3 linked regions of the Homo sapiens genome follow. The protein of the gene in region 2 purifies or fractionates together with the protein of the main gene of each other region. This does not show direct contact. Each region holds a gene or a part of one and is shown on either strand. Other genes may lie near its edges. The genes, in order: ZYG11B, AP1G2 and ATG2B.

Region 1 (10,888 bases), on a different chromosome or scaffold from region 2:
AGTGAGATGGGGACACTTTCTCTAACATGAACACATTAAGAAGATACACATATTTTGAACAAGAGATTTTAACTTTTTATGGCAAAATTTACTGGTGTCAATTGTATTTTAATTGAGAGGTTAACACCATGTTGCTGTCTCTATTCCACTGAACAAAAATGACTTTGAAATAGAGGAAAAGAATAGCCAGTTTTAACTGGCGATAATTTTTTAAAATCACATTTTCACAACACTACAACATATGGAGATGTAGACAGTTAGTCTTTAACACAGAGTGCTGTAGTATTTTATACTGTGGTGCTTGGGGAAATATTCCTAGTGAATAACCGGCAGTCTGTGCAGGAACCAGCAGTCCACACTTCTAGGTATAAATATGGAGGACAAGCTTCTGCTCACCGCCTCAAGAGAGGTGGACTCCCGAAGGGTAGCCTGTCTCATTTTAAAACCTATACCATGAAACCAATTCCCAGTTCCTACACTCTGTTCTACCTTCATAATTTTTCTTTCTCATATATCTTTCCGCCAGCCATCCAGGCTCCTGCCAGTGATTAGCTTCCACAAGATGATCCACATTTCCCTTCTTTCACACTAAGAAGGACATCTTATAAAATATACACAGATAGAGAAGAAAGGCATTTTATACAGAAGCAGTATAAAATTTACAACTGAAGCAGTGTCAGAAATCAGGTCAACAGCTTATGTGAAGCTGCAAATTGATTGGAAGGGACTCTGAGATCAGAAAAGTCTGGCCTAAGGGTTCGTGCAAACTTTACCATAAAACTGTAGAATCTCAAGCACAAGTAAGTTCAAACACTGAAAGATGTGGAAAATTTCCTAAAAGGCAATGATAAAGGAAGAGACCCTTCTTGACTCATAAGTTTAAAATCACAAGACAAATTAGAGACTGTTCACATGGGCAGTACTACACATTATCAATCCCAAACTGATTTTATGACTCTTGTCATAGAAACCCCCAAAACATCAGGGAGGGTAAGATATTCCAAATGGACCAATCACAAAAAGGATTCCTGTGATTCAACTATCCAATACTTATGGCTATCAATTTAGTCTGGCTTGGGGCTGTTTTTTACAGGGAGGTGGCCTCCCATGGCGCACAATGTGTTTTTCTAAGCTATCCAGAATGGCCACAGCAATCTGTTGGACATGGGGATCAGTATGTTCATGATCTTTGATGTTGTATAAATGCTGCAATCCTCCTTCTTCAATCAGCATGCTGCAATACCTTGAAGCTGAAAAAGAAAAAAAAACACACACAAAACAGGAGAAATAGCTTTTCTTAAAACACTTGAAAATTATTCCACAAAAAAATGACTTCTAGGAGCCATTTTTTTTTAGCTGTTTTGTTATTGATCACTAACATGCTACAGCTTGATAAATAACCTCTATACTGATGTTACGTCTACAGTGCAAGGCCTACACATTCAATCAATAAATAGCTAGCTTGATTTTTCTAACCTCAAGACATGTACAACCTGTATTAAAAAAATAAAAACAATCATAACTACCTTATCTTTGACCCAAAATCACAGGTAAGTGTTGTTATATTTTTATGCATTTCCTATGCTTTTTTTTTTTTTTTAGACAGAGTCTTGCCCTGTTGCCCAGGCCAGAGTACAGTGGCGCAATCTCGACTCACTGCAGCCTCCGCCTCCTGGGTTCAAGCGATTCTTGTGCCTCAGCCTGGAAATACAGGCACATGCCACCACCCCTGGCTAATTTTTTTATTTTTAGTAGAGATGGGGTTTTACCATGTTGCCTAGGCTGGTCTCAAACTCCTGCCCTCAAGCAATCCTCCCGCCTCAGCCTCCCAAAGTACTAGAATTACAGGCATGAGCCATAATGCCAGGCTGCATTTACTATGCTTTTTAAAAACTTAATGGCACTCATACTGCACATACAATTTTTAAATTTTTGAAATATTTTATTAGCCTTTTTTTTTTTTTTTTTTTTTTTAAAGACAGTCTCATTCTGTTGCCCAGGCTGGGGTGATCATGGCTCATGCCCAGTGGTGTGATCATGGCTCACTGCAGCTTGCTGTGTTGCCCAGGCTGGAGTCCAATGGCACAATTTTGGCTCACTGCAACCTCTGCCTCCCGGGTTCAAGCAATTCTCCTTCCTCAGTCTCCTGGGTAGCTGGGACTATAGGCACCAGCCACCACACCTGGCTAAATTTTTGTATTTTTGGTAGAGGTGGGGTTTTACCACGCTGGCCAGTCCAGTCTCAAACTCCTGACCTTAAGTGATCTGCCTGCCTCAGCCTCCCAAAGTGCTGGGGTTACAGGTGTGAGCCACCACACCCAGCCACATTAAAACATTTTAATACAAATAGAAGTGAATTCCATTTAAATATAAACAAAATAAGCCCACAAGGTAGGAACCTAAACTATCTGAGTTGGAGACAAAATATTCTAATATTCCCCAAATTACAGTGCATTTTAGAATAAATTATTCAGGGGCTGGGCGTGGTGGCTCACACCTGTAATCCCAGCAGTTTGGGAGGCCGAGGCGAGCAGATAACGAGGTCAGGAGATCGAGACCATCCTGGCTAACGTGGTGAAACCCCGTCTCTACTAAAAATACAAAAAAATTAGCCAGGCGTGGTGGCAGGCGCCTATAGTCCCAGCTACTTGGAAGGCTGAGGCAGGAGAATGGCGTGAAGTGGGAGGCGGAGCTTGCAGTGAGCCGAGATCATGCCACTGCACTCTAGCCTGGACGACAGCAAGACTCCGTCTCAAAAAAAAAATAAAATAAAATAAAATAAATTATTCAGGGCTGTCATTCCATAGAGTAAAACCTAAATAACTCTAATACCTAAAAGTAGTGACAAAAATAAATACTCATATGAAAATGCACTATTATTATTATTATTATTATTTTTTTTTCAGACAGAGTCTCACTCTGTCGCCCAGGCTGAAGTGCAGTGGTGCGATCTCGGCTCACTGTAACCTCCACCTCCCAGTTCAAGTGATTTTCCTGCCTCAGCCTCCCTAGTAGCTGAGAGTACAGATGTGTGCCACAACCCACAGCTAATTTTTTGTATTTTTAGTAGAGATGGGGTTTCACCATGTTAGCCAGGATGGTCTCGATCTCCTGACTTCGTGATCCACCCGCCTTGGCCTCCGAAAGTGCTGGGAATACAGGCGTGAGCCACCATGCCCAGCCAAAAATGCACTATTATTTACTTATTATGTTTTATTTTCTCCTACTGAGCTGTGAAAGGTCCATTCCTTGAGTTATGAGGAAAGGAACCTATAGATTAGAGACTGGGAATATGATGGGATCAACTGTTAAGAAATTTGGGAGTCCTCAGAACCTGTGGGTACAGTAAAAAGAAAACGACTTTAGGGCAGAGACAGTTTAATGTAGCTAAAGAGGCAGTTTTCGATTTATGAGTGAACAACTCTGCTTCTGGGTAATGTAGTAGGAAGGACCGGATAAGCCTCCAGGTGGGAGTTCAGGTGGGTACAAGGCAGTTTTCTCGGTCACATCCCATTCATTGAATTATTCTTCTTTATCTGACACAGAAGAGCTTTTACTGCATTGCCTTTTTGTGGTATGCAGTGAGTTTTCATCAAACAATACAAGAGAAGGAGCTGGGTGCGGTGGCTCATGCCTGTAATCCCAGCACTTTGAGAGGCCAAGGCGGGTGAGTTCGAGACCAGTCTGGCCAAAATTGTGAAACCCAGCCTCTACTAAAAATACAAAAATTAGCTGGGCATGGTGGCGTGTTCCTGTAGTCCCAGTTACTCGGGAGGCTGAGGTAGGAGAAATGCTTGAATCTGGGAGGTGTAGGTTGTGGTGAGCTGAGATCGTGTCACTGCACTCCAGCCTGGGCAACAGAGTGAGACTCCGTCTCCAAAAAAAAAAAAAAAACCCAAGCGAAAATCTCACTAAATGTTACTACTTCTGCTATAAGGATATTAGTAAAAACAACTCTCACATATCCTATATAAGGCCCTTTATAGTATGTCCCCTATTAAGGTCCAATAGAAGAAATTTAATTCATAGTTAACTTCTCATAAAAAATTCTCTCCCCTCCCCATCTCCCCTGACAAGGATATGGAATGTTTCCCTCTTATATGGAGAACCATGTCGCTTTTTACTTGCAGCAGAGCCACAAAAATCCCTATGCATGGCCTACAAGTCTACATTTGACTATTTTCCCTCTATCCTAGAATTTTTTTTTTTCTTTTTGAGACAGAGTCTCACTCTGTCACCCAGGCCAGAGTGCATGGTGCCATCACAGCTCACTGCAGCCTTGCTTTCTGGGCTCAGATGATGCTGCCACCTCAGCCTCCCAAGTAGCTGGGACTACAGGAGCACACCACAACACCTGGCTAATTTCTTTTACATCTTTTATAGAAACTAGGTTTCGCCATGTTGCCCAGGCTGGTCTCAAACTCCCGGGCTCAAGCGATCCACTCACCTCAACTTCAGAAAATGCTGGGATTATAGGGATGAGCCATTATGCCCGGCCCCTATAATTTTTGAAAAATTATTTTTCCTTACTTCTAATTAAAACTAAAAGTAGGCCAGGCACAGTGGCTCACACCTGTAAGCCCAGCACTTTGGGAGGCCGAGGTCGGTGGATCACCTGAGGTCAGGGGTTCAAGATCAGCCCAGCCAAAATGGTGAAACCCTGTCTCTACTAAAAATACGAAAATTAGCCAGGTGTGGTGGTGCAGGCCTATAGTCCCAGCTACTCTGGAGGTTGAGGCAAGAGAATCGCTTGAACCTGGGAGGTGGAGGGTGTGGTGAGCCGAGATCGCACCACTGCACTCCAGCCTGGGTGACAAAGTGAGACTCCATCTCAAAAAAAAAAAAAAAAAAAAAAAAAAAAAAAAAAAAAAAATATATATATATATATATATATATATATATATATATATACACATATATATACACACTTTACTATTAAAGTGGTTCTGTGTATTTCTTGTGTCAAATCATTTGTGGAATGAGTTTATATTAATAAATAATTAGGCCACGCTTGATGGCTGACGCCTGTAATGCCAGCACTTTGGGAGGAAGAGGCAGGCAGATCGTTCGAGCCTAGGAGTTTGACACCAGCCTGGCCAACATGATGAAACCCCATCTCTACAAAAAATACAAAAAAAAGCCAGGTATGGTGACGTGCACTTGTAGTCCTAGCTACAAGCTGAGGCAGGAGGATCATCTGAGCCTGGACGTCAAGGTTGCAGTGAGCTGTTACTATGCCACTGCACTCCAGCTCCAGTGATAGAGACAGACCTTGTCTCTAAATAAATAAATAAGAGTTACATCGTAGCTTTCAAAGAATAATATAGAACCTGATTCAAACACTTTGCTTCTTCAGAAACCATGGGTGCTGGCAGCGACATCTTGAACAACAGAATTTTGGGTGAATGAGAATTGGGCACCGGAATGTACCATAAACAGTGGATCTACTTAAGACCTTTTACTCAACAAATGGACTCACTGTAGTCTCCTAATCTTTAAATTCCTTGAGGTGAGAACAGTGTCTCATTCACCACTATTATTCAGTGTCTAGTTACACCATGCTCATTCTGAAAGAATACCTTAAGTTGGCCGGGCACAGTGGCTTATGCCTGTAATCCCAGCACTTTGGGAGGCTTAGGCGGGCGGATCACCTGAGGTCAGGAGTTTGAGACCAGCCTGGCCAACATGGTGAAACCCCGTCTCTACTAAAAAAAAATAATAATAATACAAAAATTAGCCGGGCATGGTGGCAGGTGCCTGATATCTCAGCTACTCGGGAGGCTGAGGCAGGAGAATCGCTTGAACCCAGGAGGCGGAGGTTCCAGTGAGCCGAGATCGCGCCACTGTACTCCAGCCTGGGGAACAAGAGCGAGACTTCGTCTCAAAAAAAAAAAAAAAAAAAAAAAAAGAATACCTTAAGTTTATAACCTAAGATGGCCTTACATTTTAAGTCAGTGTTCTTAAAAATCACTTTAATACACAATTTAGAAATATCTTTCCTGGGAAATGAGAATTTCACTTAAAGAAAAAAAACACAGTTCTTTTTTTTTGGTACATACGATTCTTGCTGCAGACATGTTGCATGGCCCAAACTGCCCATAGCTGAACTCCTGGTGTTGTGAAACAGCCAAGTAATGGGAAAAATGGATTAAAGGACCTAAAGGTTCAAAAGAAAAGAATCAAAGTTACATCCCATATTTAGCGTAATTTCCTAAAGCAGTGATTCCTAAACTTTTCATTTTCAAAATTTTATCCTATTATATTTAGACTAATATAAATGAGCTATAGAATATCATTTCTTTGTCTTAACCATTTCAGAGAAGACTGCATTCAGACATGACTCAGTACAGAAGATGGAAGGTGATTAGAACATGGTAGTGAAAGAGAAAAAATTTTTCCAAAAGCACTTTTTAGTCTTAAAGATACACATTTGAAGATAAGTAGATCTTGGTTTGGAAACTAAGAAATAGAGAAATTAGGTGATAACTAACTAGTAGAACACTATGAAAAAGATGTATAATTATCCCTTCTATTTTCTACTGGTCTGAATAAAAATAGGTGGAACATAAGTTGGAGAAATAAAAAAAATGTTGGCAACATCAGCATTTATGAACCAAACAAAAAAAATAAGTTGAATAAAAATTAAATACTTCAGGTAATTAGTAATTTAATTATCAAGTTATCTAATTACAAACAGAGTTAGGCATCCAGTATGCACTTCTTAATTTTTGTTATTTATTTATTTATTTATTTTGATACGGAGTCTCGCTCTGTCGCCCAGGCTGGAGTGCAGTGGCGCGATCTCAGCTCACTGCAACCTCCGCCTCCTGGGTTCACGGCATTCTCCTGCCTCAGCCTCCCAAGTAGCTGGGACTACAGGCGCCTGCCACCACGCCCGGCTAATTTTTTTGTATTTTTAGTAGAGACGGGGTTTCACCACGTTAGCCAGGATAGTCTCGATCTCCTGACCTCGTGATCTGCCCGCCTCGGCCTCCCAAAGTGCTGGGATTACAGGCATGAGCCACCATGCCCGGCCTATTTATTTATTTTTACATTTATTTATTTATTTGAGACAGGGTCTCACTCTGTTGCTCAGGCTGGAGTGCAGTAAGGCGATCTCAACTCATTGCAGCCTCAACCTTCCAGGCTCAAGCGATTCTCCCACCTTAGCCTCCCAAGCAGCTTGGACTACAGGGATGTGCCACCACAACTGGCTAATTTTTTATTTTTTGTAGAGACGGGGTCTCACTATGTTGCTCAGGCTGAGCTCAAGTGATCTACCTGCCTTGGCCTTCCGAAGTGGTGGGACTACAGGTGTATGCCATCATGCCCAGGTTTTTTTATTTTTTAGTAGAGATGAGGTCTCACTATGATGCCTAGGCTAGTCTGCAACTCCTGAACTCAAGTGATACTACCACCTCAGTCTCTCAAAGTGTTGGGATTATAGGTGTGAGCCACCATGCCAGGCCCAGTATGCCCTTTAATAAATTATTACAAACTGTTTCCCCAACCAAATCTAGTGTTATTCCTTTTTTGAGAGTCTCATTCTGTCACCCAGGCTGCAGTGCAGTGGCGCCATCTCAGCTCACTGCAACCTCCACCTCCCAAGTTCAAGCGATTCTCATGCCTCAGCCTCCCAAGTAGCTGGAATTACAGGTGTGCACCACCATGCCCCACTAACTTTGTTCTTTCAGTAGAGACAGGGGTTTCAACATGTTGGCCAAGCTGGTCTCGAACTCCTGGATTGAAGTGATCCACCCACCTCAGCCTCCCAAAGTGCTGGGATTATAGGCATGAGCCACAATGCCTGGCCCAAATCTGGTGCTACTTCTAATTCCTTCAATGTGTCATTTTATTTTAGACCTTCCTACATTAATACGATGCTTTTTCTTCCTAAAAATCTCCTGCCTCTCCTTATCTTTCAACACTCAGGTCACAACTCACTTCCTCTGAAAGGTGTGTGTGTGTGTGTGTGTGTGTGTGTATTTACATTTGGAGTCTTGCTCTGTCACTCAGGCTGGAATGCAGTGATGCAATCATAACTCACTGCAGCCTCAAACTCCTGGGCTCAAGTGATCCTCCCAGGACTACAGGTATGTGCTACCCCACTGGGCTTCACCTTTAATTTCATAACATTCTATGGACATTTGGCATAACGGTATTTTATCTGATCCACATTCACTCTCCCTCACAAGGATATAAAATTCTTGTGTGCAGACACCATGTCTTTGTTCATTTTTGTATTTCAAGAGCATAGAACAAATTCCTAGCACTTGTCTTCAACAAATGTGAAATGAAGGAAACATGAAGAGTGATAGGTGGTAGAAAAAAGTCAAAATACTTTGCTTCTTTTAAAGCCAATACTTTTGGCTGGGTGTGGTGGCTCACGCCTGTAATCCCAGCACTTAGGGGGGCCCAGGCAGGCAGATCACCTGAGGTCAGGAGTTCAAGACCAGCCTGGCCAACATGGTGAAACCTCGTCTCTACTAAAAATACAAAAATTAGCGGGGCGTGGTCGTGGGCGCCTATAATCCCAGCTACTCGGGAGGCTGAGGCAGGGGAATTGCTTCAACCTGGGAGGTGGAGGTTGCAGTGAGCCAAGATCATGCACTGCACTCCAGCCATGGCGACGGAGTGAAACTCTGTCTCAAAATAAATAAATAAATAACCAATATTGAGGTGCCTGAGGGAAAAATTATGCATCTAGTAGGAATGACTCTTAGGAATGATCTCTAGACTAGGTTGCTGGTTTACTGTTAATTATGATACTAATTACCTGTATGCTACCATCTCACACTCTGGAGTTGGCCATTTCAAAATAGCTGAATGCTGGAAGACAAAAGACACACAAGAAAGGATTACAATATTTATTTAGCACTGCATTATTTACTACATTATGAGGCTTTGATAGTTTAACCACTATGAATGTCTTTTGTTGGTATGGAATGACCCTACCAAATCATCCAGCAGAGAATTCCTCTGGCTACGACTCAATGTCCAAGCTTGTTCACCTCTGGATATTAAATGGGCAATAATTCCAGCTGCAAAGTAACTGACTTCCACTTCCACACTGTGTAGGAGACTACTGATGTGGTCTATAAAATCTTTCCACATTAATTCAGAATGTAATTCTTGTACTTCAGCTATATTGTTCTGGAAAAAAAAAAGAAAATATAAAAATTAATGTAATATGTATAGTAAATGGTTAAGATAACTGTTTTTAGGCCCTGGATAACAGGCAATTCAGGAAGGTGAAAGAAAAGTATTTCCCTGAGAGAAAGTATTCAAATGAGGGCAGTTTACAGACTGCAATGAAGGTAAGAGTAAGCCAAAGACAAAGTAGCAGTTTTGTTGAAACAGAGATCATAGTTTAGGGTGGTCAAGCAGCAAAACTCTGTAGAACAGAGTGCTGGAAAGGACAAAGCTCCACACTCAGAGACAGAGCACACATGACCTGTACCCCAAATCTCTGGCTCAGTAATGACAAGGGTGAAACTCCAGGAGGCTAGGGAAAGAACTACCAGAAAGTAGTATATGAATAAATCCTAAAGTCACACAGGGATAGGAGTAGTTCACATTTCCACTAGCCAGACTCAAGAGACCTTATAATAAGCAAAGTATTTGATAGTAGTAGGGCTAAATTATATATGAACCGTAGGGTAAAGTCTGATAAGACGCCACTCTAACAAAACAAATAAATAGGGCTGGGTGTGGTGGCTCATACCTGAGAGGTTGGGAGTTTAAGACAAGCCTGGCCAACATGGAGAAAGCCCGTCTCTACTAAATACACAAAAATTAGCCAGGTGTGGTGGTGCATGCCTGTAATCTCAGCTACTTGGGAGGCTGAGGCACGAGAGTCACCTAAACCCGGGAGGCAGAGGTTACAGTGAGCTGAGATCCCACCACTGCACTCCAGCCTGGGAGACAGAGTGAGATGCCATCTCAAAACAAACAAACAAACAAACAAACAAACAAACCCAAAACAGCCAAGCATGGTGGTTCATGCCTGTAATCCCATCACTTTGGGAGGCTGAGGCAGGCAGATCACCTGAGGTCAGGAGTTCGAGACCAGCCTGGCCAACATGGAGAAACCCCATCTCTACTAAAAAAATAGAAAAATTAGCTGGGCGTGGTGTCATGTGCCTGTAATCCCAGCTACTCGGGAGGCTGAGGCAGGAGAATTGCTTGAACCTGGGAGGTGGAGGCTGCAGTGAGTGGAAATCGTATCACTGCACTCCAGCCTGGGCAACAGAGCGAGACTCCGTCTCACAAAGAAATAATAATAAAAATAAAATAAAATAAAATAACACATAAACAAGCTTCAAGAAGAGCAACTTGATCTGCAAGTAACTGCATGCAAGAACAAAGTATAAGACTCTTTAGAGAAAAATAATAAAACCTAGCAATCACCAAGTTACATTTCACAAGGACCGGCATCCAATAAAAAAATTACCAGGCATACAAAGGGGCAGAAAAATATGATTCATAACCAGGAGAAAAATCAATCCAAAGAAATGGACTAAAAAATAACAGAGATAATAGAATTAGCAGACAAGGACTTAAAGCAGCTATTATAAATATTATAAATATAATTCAGACATAAACATGAAGGGAGAAAATGAAGACATAAGAAAGACCTAAATGTAAATTTTTTTTTTTTTAGATGGAGTCTCGCTCTCGCCCAGGCTGGAGTGCAGTGGCGCGATCTCAGCTCACTGCAAGCTCCGCCTCCCAGGTTCACACCATTCTCCCGCCTCAGCCTCCCGGGTACCTGGGGCTACAGGCAACCGCTACCATGCCTGGCTAATTTTTTTGTATTTTTAGTAGAGACGGGGTTTCACCATGTTAGCCAGGATGGTCTCAATTTCCTGACCTCGTGATCCGCCCG
Region 2 (9,613 bases):
GCTGAGATGTGCCGAGACCTGGCCCCAGAGGTGGAGAAACTGCTCCTGCAGCCCAGTCCCTACGTGCGCAAGAAGGTGAGATGGCGGGACTCCTGGCACGTGCTCCTGCACACTGCCTGCTGCGTGCTATATAGTAGTAGATGCAGGGGTCCATCTCCTCTGACCCCTGTCTGAGGCCCCTGACCTCTGCAGGCTATTCTGACTGCAGTGCACATGATCCGGAAGGTCCCTGAACTCTCCAGTGTCTTCCTCCCACCCTGTGCCCAACTGCTTCATGAGCGTCACCATGGTAAGGCTGTGGGGCCCCCCATCCTTTGCTTCAGGTCTATGGACAGAAGAATTGAAAATCGGATGGGAACCCCAGCTCACAGGAGAAGGGTAGTGCACACACACAGGCACACACGCAATAGACTCTCTTGCCCCTGGCCCCCACCATTCACTTCCCCGACGCTGACCCCAGGCATCCTGCTGGGCACCATCACGCTGATCACGGAGCTCTGCGAACGAAGCCCTGCAGCCCTCAGGCACTTCCGAAAGGTGGGCTGGTGAAGGGGCAGGCCCTGGGCCTGGAAGACAGGGTCAGTGGGGAAGGAATGGGGCTTTAGCTGGAGAGGATTAGAACGAATGCCCAAAGTTGTGCCCTCCCTCCAGGTGGTACCCCAGCTGGTACACATCCTCCGGACTCTGGTGACAATGGGATACTCCACAGAACACAGCATATCTGGAGTCAGCGACCCCTTCCTGCAGGTGGGGTGACCTTTCACTGCTGTATCCCTGGATCAGAGAGGGCATAGCAGTAAGACCATGACCAGTGGTTTCCTCCCAGAGAACACTGGTTCTCTCAGTGTCCTGGGCAGCAGAGTAGCAGGCACAGGATTGCTCGGGTCATCCCAGGACCTGTGAGGGGAGAGGGAATGCCTAAAAGTCAGGAAAATACAGTTTGTTAACAATTTTTTTTTTAAGCCTGTCCTAAACTCCCCTGGCCTCACACACCTCTGTTCCCCTCCTAGGACCAAGGGACCTGTGGAGGTGAGGAGGTGGGGGAAGGCTCTAGGGAGCGAGCCAGACCCTCACATGTTGGAGTTTTCTCCTCAGCCCCACGACTCCTTATCCTATGAACCCCTCCAACTTTCCATTTTCAACCCAACCTCAGGTCCAGATACTTCGTCTGCTTCGGATCCTGGGCCGGAACCACGAGGAGAGCAGTGAGACCATGAATGACTTGCTGGCCCAGGTGGGGCCTGGGAGGGCACTGGTTAGCTGTGTTGCTTGGAGACCCCATCAGCCCTGGGTGCCCCTCACATGACTCGTCACTGTGCAGTGGCCGTGTAATTGCCTCTCCATCTCCTCTAGACAGTGAACTCCATGAAGAAGGGACACAGTCTGTCTTAGTGCTATTGCCCCAGTGCCCAGGCTGGCCCTGGCACATAGTAGAGCCTCAGGGAACTTTGTTGGATGGTTGAAGGATGGACAGATAACATGTTGGAGTCCTTCAAGAATCCTGAGGATTACCTGGGCTTGTTGGCATGTGCCTGTAGTCCCAGCCACTCAGGAGGCTGAGGCAGGAGGATCATCAGAGCCTGGGAGGTCAAGGCTGCAGTGAGCTTTGGGCGACAGAGTGAGACCCTGTATCAAAAAAAGGAGACCTGAGGAGGGCCTTGAGCAGATACATCTCCTCTCTCATCCACTCAGGTGGCCACTAACACGGACACCAGCCGAAATGCCGGAAATGCGGTCCTGTTTGAGACAGTACTCACCATCATGGATATCCGCTCTGCAGCTGGCCTACGGGTATCACCCCTTATGCCTCTCCCACTACGGCCCCGCCCACCACCTCACCCACACAGGTCCTGCTTGCTGGTTTCTCCCTCCTAGCCCCATCATCTTGCGCCAATGTGTTCCCAGTCCTCAATGGCTGAGCAGGTTGCTCCTTTCCGACTGACCCCAACTTCTGCCTCTCATAGGTTCTAGCTGTCAACATTCTTGGTCGCTTCCTACTCAACAGTGACAGGAACATTAGGTAATAGTCCCAACTGTCTACCTAGGCTGTGCCACTGATCCCCTGGCCCTCTGCCCTCCTTCCTCCAGAGCCTCCTGATCCATTTCTCTCTTATCTTATCCCTATACCCAGGACAGGACGGGGAGTGGGGGCTGATGGCCATGGTATGATAGAACCTCCCCCATCCTGACCAGGTATGTAGCCCTGACATCACTGCTTCGACTGGTGCAGTCTGATCACAGTGCTGTGCAGCGGCATCGGCCCACTGTGGTGGAATGTCTACGGGAAACTGATGCCTCCCTCAGCCGGTGAGCAGTGATAGAGGGGACAGGAGGGCAGGGCAGAGGTTCCCAGTGCCCTGTGGCCAAGACTCGAGCCAGTTTAGAGCAGCTGGAGTAAGGGGACTAAGGGGGACAGGTCCCTGGGGAAGCAGAGGGCCTGAGGCATGGACCAGGATGACCTGGGCTACCTGCATGGAAACCTCTTTCTCCTGCCAGGAGAGCCCTGGAACTAAGCCTGGCTCTGGTAAATAGCTCCAATGTGCGAGCCATGATGCAAGAGCTGCAGGCCTTTCTGGAGTCCTGCCCTCCTGACCTACGGGCTGACTGTGCCTCAGGCATCCTGCTGGCTGCAGAGAGGTGAGGTGCCCAGGAGTCGAAGAGGGTAGAATCTGGGGAGCGTCAGTACCAGGACTGATGAGCCATATATCCCCTAGGTTTGCTCCAACCAAACGCTGGCACATAGACACCATCCTGCATGTGCTGACAACGGTGAGGCAGGGGCCAGTCAGAGAGCTGGGCAGAAGTGGTCAAGATTCACCACACTGACTTGGCCATGCCCACACCTTCCAGGCGGGCACCCATGTGCGGGATGATGCAGTGGCCAACCTGACCCAGCTGATTGGGGGGGCCCAGGAGCTACATGCCTACTCTGTGCGCCGCCTCTACAATGCCCTGGCAGAAGACATTTCCCAGGTACCATTCCCACCTACCTAGGCCCAGGGCTGCCCAACCACTCCCTTGCCCATCCTGGGCCACCTCCTCCCTACTAGATTCCAATTTTTCTCTCAAGGTCACAGCTGCTTACACAGTGCAGAAGACATCTGAGCACAGAGCCCTGTTTTTAAGAACATCTGGGCTTTTGTCCTGACTCTGGTACCTCCTGGTTATGTAACTACAGATGACTAACTTCCCTTATGCTCCATGTACCCTGACTGCCTCTTAGAGCTGCCTTGAGATTAAAGCTCTTGTGTTTATGAGGTTTTATTATTACCTTGAATGCTGAATGAATTAACAGATGCCAGCCAGTATCTATAGCCCCCTTTTCCATCTTAATTAAATAGGGTGGGCAGAAAGCATCATCCACCCCTTCCACAAGGGAGGGACCCTCTCACATTTCCATCCTGTTTGGTTAGGCCATGTAGTTCTGATGCTTGGCCACCAGAGGGCAGTGGGAGCCAGGTAACAAACTTCCCTTTCCCCACTCCTCCAACCCCCCACCATCTCTGCACTGCCTAAAGGGATATTGCCAGGTCTGGAAGTGAGGAGGGGACCTCAGACACTGGCCCAGCAGTGTTTCTTTCTTTCTCTCTCTCTCTTTTTTTTTTTAAAATAGAGATGGGGGGGGTCTCGCTTTGTTGCCCAGGCTGGTCTTGAACTCCTGGTCTCAAGCAATCCTCCCGCCTCAGCCTCCCAATGCGCTGGGATTACAGGCTTGAGCCACCATGCCTGGCCAGCCCAGCAGTTTCTTATCCCATGTAGCAACCACTGGTGCAGGTGGCAGCCTGGTGCATTGGGGAGTATGGGGACCTCCTGCTGGCAGGGAACTGCGAGGAGATTGAGCCCCTTCAGGTGAGACCTCATTGGGGGTACACTGAGGAGGGACTTGTCAGGGGGACAGGACTTGCACCAGGGCCACTAACTGTATCCATGTCTGAAGGTGGACGAAGAGGAAGTGCTGGCATTGCTGGAAAAGGTGCTGCAGTCCCACATGTCCCTGCCAGCCACTCGAGGATATGCCCTCACAGCCCTCATGAAGCTCAGCACTCGCCTCTGTGGGGACAACAAGTAAGAAGGGGTCCCAGCCCCTTGAGAGATGGCCTGTCACTGGGTCCACCCATTTTTGAGTTTCTTTCCAGGCATACATGCCCAGCCCTCCCTACCCCCTAGCCCTTAGGTTCTTGTTTTTGAGCCAAATCTGGGTATTTCCCTGCTCCGTGGGCCTTTCCTTCTTGCCACATCCTGCAGTGGCACACTGCCATAGCCACTTACATACTACACTGGCCCAGCCGCATCCGCCAGGTGGTGTCCATCTACGGGAGCTGCTTGGACGTGGAGCTGCAGCAGCGGGCTGTGGAGTATGACACACTCTTCCGGAAATACGACCACATGAGGTGTGTCCAGCACTGTGCTGCAGCATGGGACCCAAACCCCTGCCCTCTCCCAAATGCCCTTTTCTAGGTACAAGGGCCTCATCCTCACCTGTGTTCTTCCATATCCACGGTGAGAGCTTCCCACCCACTGTTAATTGAAGCTAAGCTGGCTTCCAACCCTCCTTGTTCATCTGAAAATCAGCAACAACATGTCATTTTAGGAAATCAGAAGGGTACTTCTGAGCCACCATGTGCCCAGGGCTCCATATTCCTAGTCCTCATCCTAGATGCCTCTTGTGAAAGGCCCAGAGACCACACAGAGGCACACTTGCATTCCATCCTCTCAGGGCTGCCATCCTGGAAAAAATGCCTCTTGTGGAGCGAGATGGCCCTCAGGCTGATGAGGAAGCAAAGGAAAGCAAAGAAGCAGCCCAGCTTTCAGAAGCAGCCCCAGTGCCCACAGAGCCCCAGGTGAGAAGGCTAGAAACTCTGGGGTAGGAAGACGGGCTGAGCTTCATACCCAGCCCTGCCCCTTCTGTCCCTTCTGCCAGGCCTCACAGCTCCTGGATCTGCTAGATCTCCTGGATGGGGCTTCTGGGGATGTCCAGCATCCTCCCCATCTGGACCCCTCCCCAGGAGGTGCCCTGGTACACCTGCTTGACCTTCCCTGTGTACCTCCACCCCCAGGTAAGCCTAAGCAAAGGGAAGATGTCTTAGAGAAGGTAGGTGGAAATGTACTGCTCCTCCTCCTAAGCCAAGGGCTGAGGCTCATGGACCCTGCTTCTTCCTGTGTGTCCCCCATCCCATCGCCATCTCAGGAGGTAAAAGAATGAAGTCAATCATGGTCATCTGTCTTCCCTTTGTTCCAGACTTCTTTCCCTGGCCTACAGGGCCCTGCTTCCTCCCCAACCCTTCTTATACCACTTTCCCACTACCCACTCACTGCCCCCTTCTCAGCTCCTCACACCCTCCCACCCTTGGCATTTCATGTTCTTTTTTACATGGAATGTTCTTTCCCCAGCACATCAAATGACCAGCTCATTCTCACTCTTCAGGCTTCAGCTAAAATGTCAGATGCCTTCCCCTACCACTCCTATTTAAGTCAGTTCTCCCCAGTTATTCTGGCATGACTTACTTCCTTCATAGCATCTATTATGGTCTGTAATTATCTTGCCTTTTTTTTTTTTTTTTTTTTTTTTTTTTTGAGACAGCGTCTTGCTCTGTCACCCAGGCTGGAGTGCAGTGGCGTGATCTCGGCTCACTGCAACCTCTGCCTCCCGGGTTCAAGCTGTTCTTGTGTCTCAGCCTCCCAAGTCCGGGCCTCAGGTGATCCACCCACCTCAGCCTCCCAAAGTGCTGGGATTACTGGCTCACGCCCGGCCTTTTTTTATTGTTTCTCTCCCCCATTAGACAGTAAGCTCCATCCTCATCTACATGTCTACTTTGTTACTAGCCTTTCGAGTAGTGCAGGGCCAGTAGGTGTTTACTCAATTTTTGTTGAATGAATGAACAAACATGTTCTCTCAAACCTGCACACTGAGCTGCTTCTGTCTCCCTACTCCAGCTCCCATCCCAGATCTCAAAGTGTTTGAGCGTGAGGGAGTACAGCTGAATCTGTCTTTCATTCGACCCCCTGAAAACCCTGCTTTGCTGTTAATCACCATCACTGCCACCAACTTCTCAGAGGGTGATGTCACCCATTTCATCTGCCAGGCTGCTGTGCCCAAGGTTTGTAAAGATCAGAGTTCAGAGGTGGCCTGGGGACTCCAGGAGAAAAGGCCACTAAGTGGAGGAGGTGGGTGGGAGACAGTGTGAGATGGGATTGAGTCATCTGGAGATCAGCACTTGGGGAGTTACAGGAAAAGGGTGTGGAGCCACTGAGTATAGAGGGGCTGCCTGAGCCCTACCTACTGCCATACTGTGCTCTGTTAAACTCCTGTGTTCAGAGTCTCCAGCTGCAGCTGCAGGCCCCCAGTGGGAACACAGTTCCAGCTCGGGGTGGCCTTCCTATCACCCAGCTCTTCAGAATCCTCAATCCTAACAAGGTGAGCTTCAGGAGTTCCCCCAAGACAAGACCCAGGGATAGAAGAAGCCGTGGGTGCTAACCCTGGTCCCTGCTCTCCTATTCCTAGGCCCCCCTGCGGCTAAAGCTGCGCCTCACCTACGACCACTTTCACCAGTCGGTGCAGGAGATCTTTGAGGTGAACAACTTGCCTGTGGAATCGTGGCAGTAACTGTCTCCACTCACAGCCTGAAATTCTCCTGTGTCCCAAACCCCAGGGGGCCCCAGCAGCTTCGAACCTACACCTGAGGGCTACCAGCAGGTGGCGCTCTGGCTTTGCACTGCAAAAACTGGGGACCAGCCCCCTTCTCCCACAAATAAAGCCCAATAAAGCCTGAGAAGTGAGGAAAGCCATATTTGGGTATATTTGAAGTGGAAAGTGTGTATGAATAACAGCAAGGGAAGAGCATTCTTACATAGGAGGTATGCATCTTCCCCTGAGCCTTGAGAACCTGTCTCAACACGGGGGCGGGGAGGGGGCAGCTGTTGGTTCTTTCTAACCCTCTCCAGGTCAGGGAACAAATTTGCCCCTAAACTTCCACAGGAGGCACTCTACCCTCTGGGCCAGAGCTGGGCACAGTGGCAAAGTCAGATTAGAATTTCTAGAGTTCTAACAGCGATTCCCAACCATTTCCTCAACTTTTCTTCTGTTTCCCACATCCCAAGGCAGGGAAATCCCTGCTGCCTCTCCTCATCTTCTAACTCAGCTGTAAGGCGGTTTAGGAGCCGCTGGCAGAATCAATGGCATCGACCAAGGGAGGGGGGGTGGCAAGGGATTTTCCTGTGCTTAACTACTGATCACGGCTAAGTGGAAATCCTATAAACACGAGCGGAAATCAATGGAGGCTGCTTAGCGGCCAGGGGAGAGGGGCGGCCCACAGATTGCATCTGACGGATGAGCGAGAGGAAGCAGCCAGGGAGGGCTCAAGGAAGAGTAGCTTAGAGGAGGGGGAAGAAACAGGCAGCGCTGGAGAGAGAGGAGTCACTGTCAGAAGGGACACTGAGGGGAGAGGCACAGTGGGCCCAGGAGTGGACTCCGTTAGACCCAGAGTTCCCTTCCCCTTCTAGGAAGTGACACCCCTAGCCCAGGCAGTGGTCAGGATCTTCAGTCTCCTGTGGCCTCTCTCTGGAGCTGTTCACTTCTAGCAGGCGCTGATAGTCTTGAGGCCGGAAACGCTGTAGATACACAATCAGCTTGGCTGGTGCTGTCTCCTGTGCAGGCACACCTACAGGTAAAAGGACAATGAGGAGAGAAATGGACAGAGCCACAAGCACTTGGACTCTGCTCCCTGCCCACCTAGCCAGGACTCCGTGGATGTTTCCAAAGCCACACTGGGGTTCTGAATGTCACCCACCCAGCTTCTGTAACACACTAGTCCACTCCCTGCCTGCCTGTGGAAGTGGGACCTAAAAGAGCAACTTCAGGCAAGAGTGGGACTAGAAGCCACACCTCAGCCTCTCTCCTCCAGCAAGGAGAAATGGCGAAGAGGCACCCAGGCACCAAGATAAACGAAGGATGCCTCAGCGTCAGCTCATTTCAGTTATTACCCTGTTCCGCAATCAAGATTAAAGCCCTAGACCAGGCCAAAGCTCATTAGCTTAGTAATGAAGCACATGCAGAGATGTACACATAGAAACCAAGAGCTATAGAAAGAAGAGGAGGGAAGCTATAGCCATGGGGTGGGATTCACATAGAATTCTCGCCTCTACATGGTGAGGTGAGAATGGAACTGCCTGTTGCCAGTGTCTTGTTGTTAGTGCCTGGCAGCATGCTGGGCACATAGCAAGGAACTCAGTGTATGTTTGCTGAGGGGGCTCAAACAGCACTGCAGGGCTGTAAGGCCCCATGGGATGCACAATTCCTAGTGTGGATGAACTGTCTACAAGGGAATTATGCTTAGGAACAAATCTGCCAAATCATGCCCCACTGTCTCACATAACTATAATGTTATTGTCCTTTACAAAAAGCCAAAAGGACAAATTAAAAGGATCTAGGTAATTGTAAAACAAAAGGACAAGACTGGTTGGACTCTCAGTGTAGTGGGCAGTGCATCAGTCTCATGATCTGAAGATCCTGGGTCTGAGCCTCCCAGAGGGCAGCTTTTGTAAAAAGGCTTACTTTTTACTCCTTGTGGAGGAGTGGTGACTGAAGAAGAAGAAAAAAAAGAGATTGGGGGAAGGAAGAGTCAAAGCAGGGAACTGAGAAATGAAACTGAAGGAGATCTGGCTATAGGTATGAGAACTAAATGAGGCAGGTTGGCTGGAATTAGACACGTGGAAGGACTAGATCCAAATTAGCTACTGTTAAAGAGAAAACGAGATTTCACAGAACTGTAAGCAAACTTAGAAAATTGCTAAAACAATTCCCATTACAAAAATAATCCAGGCCAGGCACAGAGGCTCACACCTGTAATCCCAGCACTTTGGAAGGCCGAGGCAGGCAAATTGCTTGAGTCCAGGAGTTCCAGACCAGCCTGGGCAACACGGCAAAACCTTGTCTCTATTAAAAAAAAAATTTTTAATCCGGAGGCCCTCCCCCACTGCATGGTCCAGCAGGTGCCTCCAAAAGAGAAAAGTGGGGAGCAGGAAAAGCACAAAAGGGCCTGTCTCCCTCACCAAGCATGCTGCTGAGCCTGTGGATCTTCTCTAGGGCAGTTGGTACTTCAGCCTCCTCATGCACCAGGGCCTCTACCTCACCCACAGCGTAGCCAAAGTCGGCTGTATCCAAGTCCACCCTGAGCTGTGGCTCCTCTTCATCAGCTCCCAAGAGCACCAGCTTCCAGGCACTCCGCTTAGTCACAAAACTAGCTACTTCCTGCAGCCCCAGTGGGCCCAGCACAGCAGCCACATCTCCAGCCCCCAGGCCGTCAGCCCGCAGCACCTTACAGAGTTGGGCCACAATTGTAGGTTCCGCTGTGAGTTCCTTATACTCCGTGTGGGGTCCTAAGACACCTGCTGCTCCAGGACATTTGAGCTCCCATCCACTATCCTCTCGTCGTCGCAGCCAGTGGTCAGCCTGCATGAGGCTCAGCTCAGGGGTGTCATAGTAGGTGTCTCGGAAGGTGACCCGGTACTCCAGGGTGCCCCCCAACTCCTGCAGCCGCTCCTCTGTGCCAGGCCCTGGAAGGAACTTTCGCTCCACCTCAATCAAGCCCTGGGCCATGCTACCTGCAATTGGCTG
Region 3 (10,888 bases), about 73 Mb from region 2:
ATTTGTTTTGGGTTGGCTGCTTGCGCACCATGTTTGCCTTGTTTGTCATCGTGCAGCGTTTGCCATCTGGAAGAAAGTTAGGTGAAGGCCTCTTGTGCCGGTTTGCCTGCTTTTGCTTGATTATATGTTTACAAGATAGGTTTGTGTATCCAGCCTGTGAATGGTCGTCTGGCCCTAGTAGTGCTGTTGAGTTATGCCTCTTTGCTCCACGTGACAGATCGTAAAAGCAGGTGTTGCAAAAGCGCTGAAGTTGCAATTTTCAGACATTTTAAAACCTGCCTTCTACTTGTCATCTAGAGGCTGTGAATTCACTCATTGCTATACAGGTGCTTCATCTGAATTTCGACTCACCACATGCAGTCGTACCTGCATTTGTGTGTTCAATGCATAGCATTTTACTTAAAGTATATTCACTTTTGGGTTTGACAGGAATAGAGTGACTTCTACCCTTTGCCCAACCCTTACTTCCTTAGCCACAGAAAATCTTAAATTATGGAAATACCTTATTATGACCCTTAAGCGAATTTGTGCTAGAGACTATAAATCAGTATATAATTTTATCAGTATGTACCTGACATAAACTAGGGAGAGGACACAAGATAGTGGAAAGAGCCCTGGTTTGAGAGCAGTAAGACCCAGTCGCTCACCAGGAGGTGAGAGTCCTACCCCTGGAGAGACTCTCCAGACCGCCACAATTAGCCGAGTGATAATGGACTTAGCAATTCACCTGAGTTCAGTAAACACTAATGGAGCACACACTTCATCTCTGTGTCGTCCGTCTTATGGTATTGTATTCCTGTAATTCTTCCAAAAGATAGGGATTCTGAAGGATATTTTTGAATTCAACAACCCATGATTCTATACTTTTGATACAGTTATGAATAGGTTATCTTGAAAAAAGAGGGTTCAGGATTTATTAATGCCTTTTGTGGGTGGAAGGGCTTTGTATGCATTATCCTTTAATGACTTTAACCCTATAAGGTGGGCATTAATATTTCCATTTTACAGATGGAGTTAAGCAGTTTGCCCCATCACACATCTAGCAAGTATTACATCACATGGCCTAAGATCAAAAGAAAGGCAGTTAATGTTTATTGAGTATGTATTTATGTCAGGCATTGTACTAGGCACTTTCATTTGTGAGGTTTTATTTAGTCCTTATGGGAAATCAGAGGTAGTGATATTTGAATTTTATAGTTTGAGTTCAGAATCATTGGCAAAATGATTTATTACTAAACTTAATCTGAGGATGATGTTTTGTTCTTGATGGGCGGGTTTTGTAAACTAAAATGATAATGTCAAAGCATCCAGTAAACATTTGCTGTTGCTGATTTATTTTCATGTGCTGTGTTGATGGTTAGGATAAATCTTAGTGTGACCCTTAGATACAGCTGTTCAGAGTTCTGATTCCAAATTCAGTTTATTTTCACACTTGATTTTTTTTTTTTTTTTTTTTTGGTAGAGGATTCATTCTCTTGCTTTGTTGCCAAAGCTGGTCTTGAACTCCTGGTTTCAAGTGGTCCTCCCACTTCTGCCTCCCAAGTGCTCAGATTACAGGCATGAGCCATAGGACCCAGCCAGATACTTGATTTTAATGACTTACATGACTGAAAAAAAGGTACCTTCGGAGATTCACAGATCCTAATGGAAAAACTGATGCTAATTGAAGAATTGCTGTACTCCTACTGTTTCAATTCTAAATGATCAATTATGCAAAGAATTTTGTTGAACTCAGCAATGACATTCCTTTCATTCCTGATCTCAATTAGTTTTTCTATTATGGCTAATTGACATTGCATATATACACACAATTAGGTTTAAAATTCAGTTTTTCAAGCTCTTTGTTCAGAAGACTTAGATTGGTTGGAATAGTCTTTTCATGTTTTTAAACATTTTGTAAACTATATAGATAATGACTTAAAAAATAAGCAATGTTTTTAATAGACATTGTTTTCAGCAACAAAATCATGGAACAATGGAAACATTTCCAAATACAGTTTTTCAAATGTTCTCCTCATAGTACAAGTAGTCTTTGAAAAGTGGTTGCTTTCTTACTCATTATTAAAGTGCTATCTTTATTTTGAAAAGACAGATTAAGTATGTTTTGTTTTTTGGAAAATATCTGCTAGGTAGCATGTACTACTGATAGTCATTGTCATAAATACATAAATAGTCAGTGGAGAATTCTTCTCTGTGTAAAAGGAAAATGCTTATCTTTAAATCCAACCCTTAAACACTTGGCCATAGGAGAAACCAGGAAACCAGAAGGTAATTGCCATTCACTTTCTCTTTACAAAGATTCTACTGTTTAAAGGTCTGGTTTTATTCTATAGAATGTATGTGGAAATGTTTCAGTGTGCAGAAGTGGAAGGAACATCCAACTGAGGGCACCACTCTTAATCCTTCTCTGTTGTGGAACTACTAGTTTTCTCTTTGTACCAGTTTGATATGTGGCTTGAAGGAAGGTGCCAGTGCCCATTTGTATATTAAATATAAGTACAACTTTTCAATCTAAATTTGGAAAATTTAATATAGAATGTCTCATTTTCCTCTCACATCCTTATGAATCATCTGATAATACTTTAGGATATATGCATCCAGTTTTGGAGATTACTACCTTAAACGTGGCATGAAGTGGAGGGAGAAATAGAGGCAAGGGGTTTGGGATTGTTCCATCATTGGAATAGACTGTCTAAAAATTTCATAAACTCCTTGTCCCTAGAAGTGGTTGAAATGGCAAAATGTTGAAAGGAGGAAATTCTATTTGGGGTGGGAAGTTGGATTTAATGACTCATTCCTTTTTAACTCTATGACTGTGCCTTTATTTTTGATTTTTAAATGGAATTTCTTTCATTAATCGATTCAGTACATTTATTGAGCTCTTAGCATGTGCCACTGTGAGGGGCTGGGGGATATAGCAGTGAACTAAACAAAGACCCTTTTCTTACAGGAGCTCAAGAAGATACACATTAACAATTTATTACACTGAGGCCTTTTATTTTATTTTTTTTTTGAGACAGGGTCTCACTCTGTCACCCAGACTGGAGTGCAGTGGCGTGATCTAGGCTTACTGCAGCCTCAACCTGCTAGGCTCAAGCGATCCTCCTACCTCTCCTCCCCTCCCTGCAGTAGCTGGGACTACAGGTGCATGCCACCACACCTGGCTACTTTTTGTATTTTTTGTAGAGACGGGATTTCGCCATGTTGCCCAGGCTGGTCTTGAACTCCTGGACTCAAGCAGTCTGCCCATGTCGGCCTCCCAAAGTGCTGGGATTACAGACGTGAGCCACCACGCCTGGCCACTGAGGCCTTTTAACTTCAGTTTAAGAATGTTTCGATTGCTGCTTATATTCTCTTGGTGTTTAATAAAATTATCTTCAGTTCAAGAAACATTGATTACTGATTATTTGTCAAAGGTCACCTGGAGACTAGAGTGTTACCTTCACTTTTTCTGTTTATATGCGTGAAACTCATTGATGATAATTGAAAGCAAAATACCCTTAAACAGAAGAATAAAAAGCTCTAAAGGACTCTATGGTGGGGCATTTATTTGCTGAGTAGTTCAGGTGTCTCCACTTTTAGTTTAAGAGTTATTTTCTCGTTAGCATAGTGGTGACTAAAAAAAAAAAAATACTTGATAGGACTGGTGAGGAAACACTTCATAGGACTGGTGTGGAAAATGTTGCTTGAGCCAAGTAGGTTGAGAATTTTTACTACTCATATACTATAGTAGCCTTGGATTTTCCCAGAATGACTGAATTTCAAGGTACCTTATGCTACAAGATATATGGGATTTTGCTCAAGTGGTTATAAGACTGGGCATAAATATAACCTATTTAAACATCTTATACTTAGGGAAATTATTTTGTAGCTTAGTGGTGCAATGTAAATTCTGGAACTGTTGACTCTCCAAAACTGTTAACATTTATCAGTTTTTTTCTTTTTTTCCTTTTCTTTCTTTAGAGACAGTCTCTGTTACCTAGGCTGGAGTACAGTGGTGTGATCAGCTCACTGCAGCCTCAAACTCATGGGTTCAAGCGATCCTCCAATCCAGCCTCCTGAGTAGGTGGGGACTACTGATGTACACCACCACACCCAGTTAATTTCTTTTAATTTTTGTAGAGACCGGATTTCACTATGTTGCCCAGGCTGATCTTGACCTCCTGGGCTCAAGTGATCCTCCCACCTCAGCCCCCCCCAGTTTCTGGAATTACAGGCATGAGCCACCGTACCAGGCCCCTTTAATATTACTCTTCACTGCTGTAATAAACCTTTTTGTATTTAGAGGTTTAACTTTATTTCAACTTCTCTGCCACAAAATTGGGACGAAAACTTGGTGTTTACTGAGAAGAGAGTTCCATCAAGTCCCGTTTCTCTCATAGTTGTCTAAGGTTGACAGTTTGCAGAAGCTAAGTCATTGCCTCCATATGTTTTAAACACTGTTAGGTTTTTAATAGTTCATTTTTACTATACAATTAATATATGCTCATTACAAAAAATTCAAACAGTAAAGAAATATATGAGGTATGAAGTAATAGAGCTTAATCCCATCTCTTCCAGAGATAACAATATGGTACAAAAGTTTCAAACTTTTAGTTGTGGAAATACTTAATACATGAAGCAAGCAGTTCTACTTACCTTTTGAAGTCTTTTATGATGGGCCATTTTTTTAATGGAATGTGTCAAACATTCTTAAAAAAAAAAAACTATGAAAAAATCTGAAAAACACAAGTAGAGGGAAGAACCTTGATGACCGTAACTTGTGGTACCTAGTTGATGGTGAAATAGGAAATTCTAGAGAAGGAGCAGGTTTTCTCCACTGTCTGGAGTTGGGAGTGGGAGGAGGAGATTGAGATTGGACAGAGAATAAGTTTTACTATATTGATTTTTGAGGGGGCTTTAGAATGTGGGGGCTTTAGATCCAGGTAGAGAAGCTCAGGAGGCACTGGGAATATACGTATAGGAAGATTGCAGTTGTAAAGATATGGGAGTTATCAGAGTATCAATAGTGAATAACAGTGGCAGGAGATGGAACTGCACAAAGTGCGTGGGTAGTAAGTAGATCAGCTTGAGAAACAAAAAAGGCCGAAGATGAAACTTAGATGAACTCCAACATTTTAAATTGTAAAGGATCAGAAAAAAGATTGAGAGAGTGAAGTGTTACAGAAGTCAAGGGAAGTTAGAATTTCAAAAAAGGTGAGTGGTCCTAGGAACTAGGTAGAGATGAGAATTCAATAAAGATGAGGACTAAATATTGTTTATTGCATTTGTCATTTTAATGGTGGTTACAAGCAGTTTCAGAGGAGCTGAGGGTTAGAAGGTCGCTTGTAGTTTGCAGTTTGAGCAGATAACTACCTTGACAGAGAAAATGGGGTTGATGGCTAGGGGGAACATGGAGCAAGGTTAGGGGTTTTAGTTTACTTTTGAAAATAATAATGATCATTTATTAAATACCTTCCATCTCTATATACTGTACTGTGTGGGTGCTTTTACATACATTATTTTACTCTAAATTGGGTACTAACTTTCTGTTTACTGTGAGGTTAAATAACTTACTCAAGCTTAGTATTAAACAGTGCAGCAAGGTTTGAAACCTGTCTTTCTGACTTTATATTTTTTTTTTGTACACCACACTGCCCCAGATTCAAGAAACTTGAGCTTCTCAGACATAACAGCACTGGGTTCACCTGGGAATTTGCTAACATTCAGGCTTCTGGCCCCTTCCATACAGATTTTGGCTCTAGAAATTCAAGAATCTGCATTTTTAATAAACATCCTAGGAGATTCTGATACATGTGATCCTTGACTGCATTTTTAAAAATACTTGCACTAAAGGAATGGAGAGTTTTTCCATTGCGTTTTAAAAGCTTGTTCTATGAGCCAGCCCCCAAACCAGTACTACGTTAAAAAAAATTATGATATGTTAACACATGATTTTGCTTAGCCTCCTGCAAAATCTTCCATGTGAAAATACATTTCTCTTTTTTGTGGGTTTCCGCAGTGATTAATTGAAGACCTTTTGCAAGTTACTTAGTTTTTCTGATCCTCAATTGCCATATTTGTAAAGTAGGCACAAAAATACCTAATTCGGAGGGTTATTATGAAGATTTAATGCAGGTGTAAATGTAGGTATAAAATAGTACACTCTAGTGTCCTGTTTGTAGTAGGTGCTGATGAAATGTTAATCTAAATTAGCTCATGCACTTTTTTTTTTTTTTTTGAGCCGCATTCTTGCTCTGTCACCCAGGTTGGAGTGCAGTGGCGTGATCTCAGCTCACTGCAAGCTCCGCCTCCCGGGTTTATGCCATTCTTCTGCCTCAGCCTCCCGAGTAGCTGGGACTACAGGCTCCCACCCCGACGCCTGGCAAATTTTTTTGTATCTTTAGTAGAGACGGGGTTTCACCATGTTAGCCAGGATGGTCTCCATCCCCTGATCTTGTGTTCCCCCGCCTCTGCCTCTCAAAGTGCTGGGATTACAGGTGTGAGCCACCGCCCTCAGCCAGCTCATGCGCGTTTTTATGCTCTGTCTTATCTCGATTTGAATTCTGATGCCTTGGTTTAAACTAATAAAGATGTATTCTTTGCCTAGTTAATCTATGGAATTACGTATTAAGAAGAAATATATAATTTAATGTTTGCTTTTTTTTCATATTGTCAAGCACACCTTGAGTTCCTTTATAGAGCTCATCATTGTACTAGGTAGGTACTGTGAAAGATAAAGACCAATGGCCCGCATTTAAAAAGTGTTTGCTTAGTACCAGGAACTATTAATATGTTGGTAGTTTTACATATATTACCTCATTAATGGTCACAGTAACTCTGTGGAGTTACTATTTCTATTTTATGGACCAGGAAATTGAGACTTGGAAATTAAGGATTTGTTCAGAGCCACCCAGCTAGCTAGTAAGTAACCTGAACATATGCTGTTTTAAAGGAGTGGGCTTCTCACACCTGCAACTATCTGATCTTTGACAAACCTGACACAAACAAGCAATGCGGAAAGGATTCCCTGATGGTGCTGGGAGAACTGGCTAGCCCTATGCAGAAAATTGAAACTGGACCCCTTCCTTACACCATATACAAAAATCAGCTCAAGATGAATTAAAGACTTAATTATAAAACCCCAAGCTATAAAAACCCTAAAAGAAAATCTAGGCAGTACCATTCAGGACATAGGCATGGGCAAAGATTTCATGATGAAGAAGCAAAAAGCAATTGCAACAAAAGCAAAAACTGAGAAATGGTTATCTAATTAAAGAGCTTCTGCACAGCAAAAGAAACTGTCATCAGAATGAACAGACAGCCTACAGAATGGGAGAAAATTTTTGCAAGCTATCCGTCTGACAAAGGTCTAAAATTCAGCATCTGTAAGGAACTTAACAAATTTACAAGAAAAAAACAACCCCATTAAAAAGTGGGCAAAGGATGTGAACAGACACTTCTGAAAAGACAACATACATGTGACCAACAAATGTGGAAAAAAAAGCTCAACATCACTGTCATTAGAGAAATGCAAATCAAAACCACAATGAGATACCATCTCGCACCACTCAAAATGGCTATTATTAAAAAGTAAAACAACAACAATAACAACAAAAACAAAACACACGGGCTGGTGAGATTGTGGAGAAAAAGGAATGCTTTTACACTGTTGATGGGAGTGTAAATTAGTTTAACCATTATGGAAGACAGTGTGGCGATTCCTCAGAGACCTAGAGGCAGAAATACCATTTGACCTAGCAACCTCATTACTGGGTATATACCCAAAGGAATATAAATTGTTCTATTATAAAGATATATGCACGCTTATGTTCATTGCAGTACTGTTGACAATAGCAAAGACACGGAATCAACCCAAATGCCCATCAGTGATAGACTGGATAAAGAAAGTATACATACACACAGTGGACTACTATGCAGCCATAAAAAGGAATGAGATCATGTCCTTTGCAGGCACGTGGATGGAGCTGGAAGCCGTTATCCTTGGCAGACTGATGCAGGAACAGAAAACCAAATACTGCATGTTCTCAAGTGGGAGCTGAATGATGAGAACACATGGACACATGGTGGGAACAACACCCACTGTGGCCTGTCAGAGGGTGAGGAGTGAGAGCATCAGGAAGAATAGCTAATGGATACTGGGCTTAATACTAAGTGATGGGATGATCTGTGCAGCAAACCACCATGGGACACATTTACGTATGTAACAAACCTGGATGTACTACACATGTATCCCTGAACTTAAAAGTTGGAAAAAATAAATGAAGGAGTGGTCTTTAACCATGTTTGCTCAATTATCTCTGAAATTTTTTTTAAAAAACTACATATTCCTTGTATGTTTAAAATTGACTTACTTTTTATTATAATTTTAAATAGTTGTAGAGAATAACTTGTTTAAATATTGATATTAAAATATAACTTTTTTCATCCAGTGGGATTTAAAAATCGTACACATTATCCGTTAAAAAATGCTTGAACAATCTCTTCATTAAAGTTGGAAATTTAACATCGTGTCTTTTTCCATTGAACTCCTGTGTCCATTTTACTTTGCAAGATTCCATTGTAATTTATATAGTTTATGCTTGTCTTTTATTGATCATGCTGCCATTTCTCTACAATAAAAACATATAAATTGAAATTGTTTATATTAAATTTTTTCTGTTGGCATTAGGCTTTCTTTTGCATTAAGCAAATATTTTCTAGTGTAACATTTTAATTCCTTTAATGATTTATATATATATATATATAAAATATGAAATTTTTTTGAGACAGATTCTCACTGTTTCGCCCTGGCTGGAATGCAGTGGCACAATCTCGGCTCTCTGCAACCTCAGCCTCCCAGGTTCCAGCGATTCTCGTACCTCAGCCTCCCGAGTAGCTGAGACTACAGGCCCATGTCACCATGCCTGGCTAATTTTTTGGGTTTTTAGTAGAGACAGGGTTTTACCATGCTGCCTAGGCTGGTCTTGAACTCCTGAGCTCAGGCAATCTGCCCACCTTGGCCTCTCAAAGTGCTAGGATTACAGGTGGGAGCCACCATGCCCAGCCCAGTATGTATTTTTAAATTGTTTCTTAGTGGTTGCTCTAGGGCTTACTATATTCATTTTATCAGTACAGTCATGTGTTGCTTAACGACAGGGATATGTTCTGAGAAATGGGTCATTAGGCAGTTTTGTTGTGTGAACGTCATAGTGTACTTGCCTAAACCCAGTGGTATAGCCTACTGTATACCTAGGCTATAGGGTACAGCCTATTGCTCCTAGGCTATACACCTGCACAGCATGTTACTGAATACTGTAGGCAACTGTGACACAATGGTATTTGTGTATCTAAACATAGAAAAGGTATGTACAAATATGGCATAAAATATAAAAAATAAAAATTTTAAAAAGATAAAAATTGATATGGCTGTATGGGGCACTTACCATGAATGGAGCTTGCAGGACTAGAAATTCCTCTGAGTGAGTCAGTGAGTGAATGTGAAGGCCTAGGACATCACTGTCCACTACTGTAGACTTTATAAACACTGTACACTTCGGCTAGAATAAACACTGTACACTTCGGCTAGACTATATTAATAAAGACATCTTTTTTTTTTCAATAATAAGTTAACCTGAGGTTACAGTAACTTTATAAACTTTAAAAAAATTTTTGAACTTTTTGTTTCTTTTGTAATAACATTTAGCTTAAACACACATTGTACAGCTATGCAAAAATACTTTTTCTTTATATTCTTATGCTATAAGCATTTTTTTGTATTTTTAATTTTTTTTTTTAATTTTTAAACTTTTTTGTCAAAAACTAAGACGCAAAAAAACACAGCCTAGGCCTACACAGGGTAAGGATCATCAATGTCACCACCTTCTACCTCCACATCTTGTTCCACTGGAAGGTCTTCAGGAACAGTAACATGCATGGAGCTGTCCTTTCCTATGATAACAATGCCTTCTTCTGGGTACCTCCTGAAAGAACTGCCTGAGCCTGTTTTACAGTTAACTTTTTTTTTTTTAAAGTAGGAGTATACTCTAAAATAATGATTAAATTGTATAGTATAGGTATTAAAACAGAAGCCGGTAGCATAGTTGTTTATTATCACCCTCGAGTATTATGTACTGTGTATAACTGTTTGTGCTAGACTTATGACTGGCAGAGCAAGAGGTTTATTTACACCAGCATCACCACAGACATGTGAGTAATGTGTTGTGCTACATTGCCTTATGATGGCTGCGATGTCACTAAGGTGATAGGAATTTTTCAGCTCCATTATAATCTTACAGGACCACTATCCTATACATGGTCTGTCATTGACCAGATGTCCTTCTGTGATGCATAACTTTATTTCCTTCAGATAATCATGGGGCTTTAAGTGTTACTTTTCTTCTGGATTGTGTTGTAATTACAATTATTGTTAAGTGTATAGTTGATCAAAACAGTATAAATTTATGCATTTTGATAAGCATAAAAATTTTTTTTTCTTTTTTTTTTTTTTGAGACAAGGTCTTGCTGTGTCACCCAGGCTTGGGTGCAGTGGGTGATCACAGCTCAACCGCAGCCTTGACCTCCTGGGATCAAGCGATTATCCCCACCTTAGCCCGCCAAGGAGCTGGGACTACAGGCACGGGCTACCATGCCATCTAATTTTTTTTTTTTTTTTTGAGACGGAGTCTTGCTCTGCCGCCCAGGCTGGAGTGCAGTGGCGCGATTTCGGCTCACGGTAACTTCCGCCTCCCGGGTTCAAGTGATTCTCCTACCTCAGCCTCCCGAGTAGCTGGGATTAAAGGCGTGGGCCACCATGCCTGGCTAATTCTTGTACTTTTAGTAGAGACAGGGTTTCACCATGTTGGCCAGGCTGGTCTCAAACTCCTGACCTCAGGCAATCTGCCTGCCT

What was found.
Region 1: the proteins of AP1G2 (region 2) and ZYG11B purify together in Homo sapiens (affinity purification with mass spectrometry; 2 studies listed by BioGRID and IntAct, with this or other methods). This does not show direct contact.
Region 3: the proteins of AP1G2 (region 2) and ATG2B purify together in Homo sapiens (affinity purification with mass spectrometry; 2 studies listed by BioGRID and IntAct, with this or other methods). This does not show direct contact.

Annotation. Positions count from the first base shown.
Region 1 is NC_000001.11:52,811,801-52,822,688, reverse strand, and holds part of ZYG11B (protein zyg-11 homolog B), read right to left. Parts: intron 9,154-10,888; coding exon 8,956-9,153; intron 8,830-8,955; coding exon 8,777-8,829; intron 6,158-8,776; coding exon 6,060-6,157; intron 1,251-6,059; coding exon 1,060-1,250; 3' UTR 1-1,059. UniProt on the Homo sapiens protein: Serves as substrate adapter subunit in the E3 ubiquitin ligase complex ZYG11B-CUL2-Elongin BC. Acts to target substrates bearing N-terminal degrons for proteasomal degradation with the first four residues of substrates being the key recognition elements.
Region 2 is NC_000014.9:23,556,740-23,566,352, reverse strand, and holds the end of AP1G2 (AP-1 complex subunit gamma-like 2), read left to right. Parts: coding exon 1-75; exon of another isoform or gene 76-192; coding exon 193-289; coding exon of another isoform or gene 290-460; coding exon 461-537; exon of another isoform or gene 538-651; coding exon 652-747; exon of another isoform or gene 748-897; intron 898-1,153; coding exon 1,154-1,234; intron 1,235-1,512; exon of another isoform or gene 1,513-1,626; intron 1,627-1,692; coding exon 1,693-1,791; intron 1,792-1,964; coding exon 1,965-2,020; intron 2,021-2,131; coding exon of another isoform or gene 2,132-2,189; exon of another isoform or gene 2,190-2,193; coding exon 2,194-2,307; exon of another isoform or gene 2,308-2,496; coding exon 2,497-2,637; intron 2,638-2,714; coding exon 2,715-2,769; intron 2,770-2,850; coding exon 2,851-2,973; intron 2,974-3,070; coding exon of another isoform or gene 3,071-3,148; exon of another isoform or gene 3,149-3,254; intron 3,255-3,759; coding exon 3,760-3,849; intron 3,850-3,937; coding exon 3,938-4,065; intron 4,066-4,245; coding exon of another isoform or gene 4,246-4,261; exon of another isoform or gene 4,262-4,276; intron 4,277-4,286; coding exon 4,287-4,391; intron 4,392-4,479; exon of another isoform or gene 4,480-4,717; and 12 more. Other genes in the region: THTPA (thiamine-triphosphatase), read right to left, coding at 7,513-7,658, 9,049-9,595.
Region 3 is NC_000014.9:96,351,503-96,362,390, reverse strand, and holds part of ATG2B (autophagy-related protein 2 homolog B), read left to right. Parts: intron 1-10,888. UniProt on the Homo sapiens protein: Lipid transfer protein required for both autophagosome formation and regulation of lipid droplet morphology and dispersion.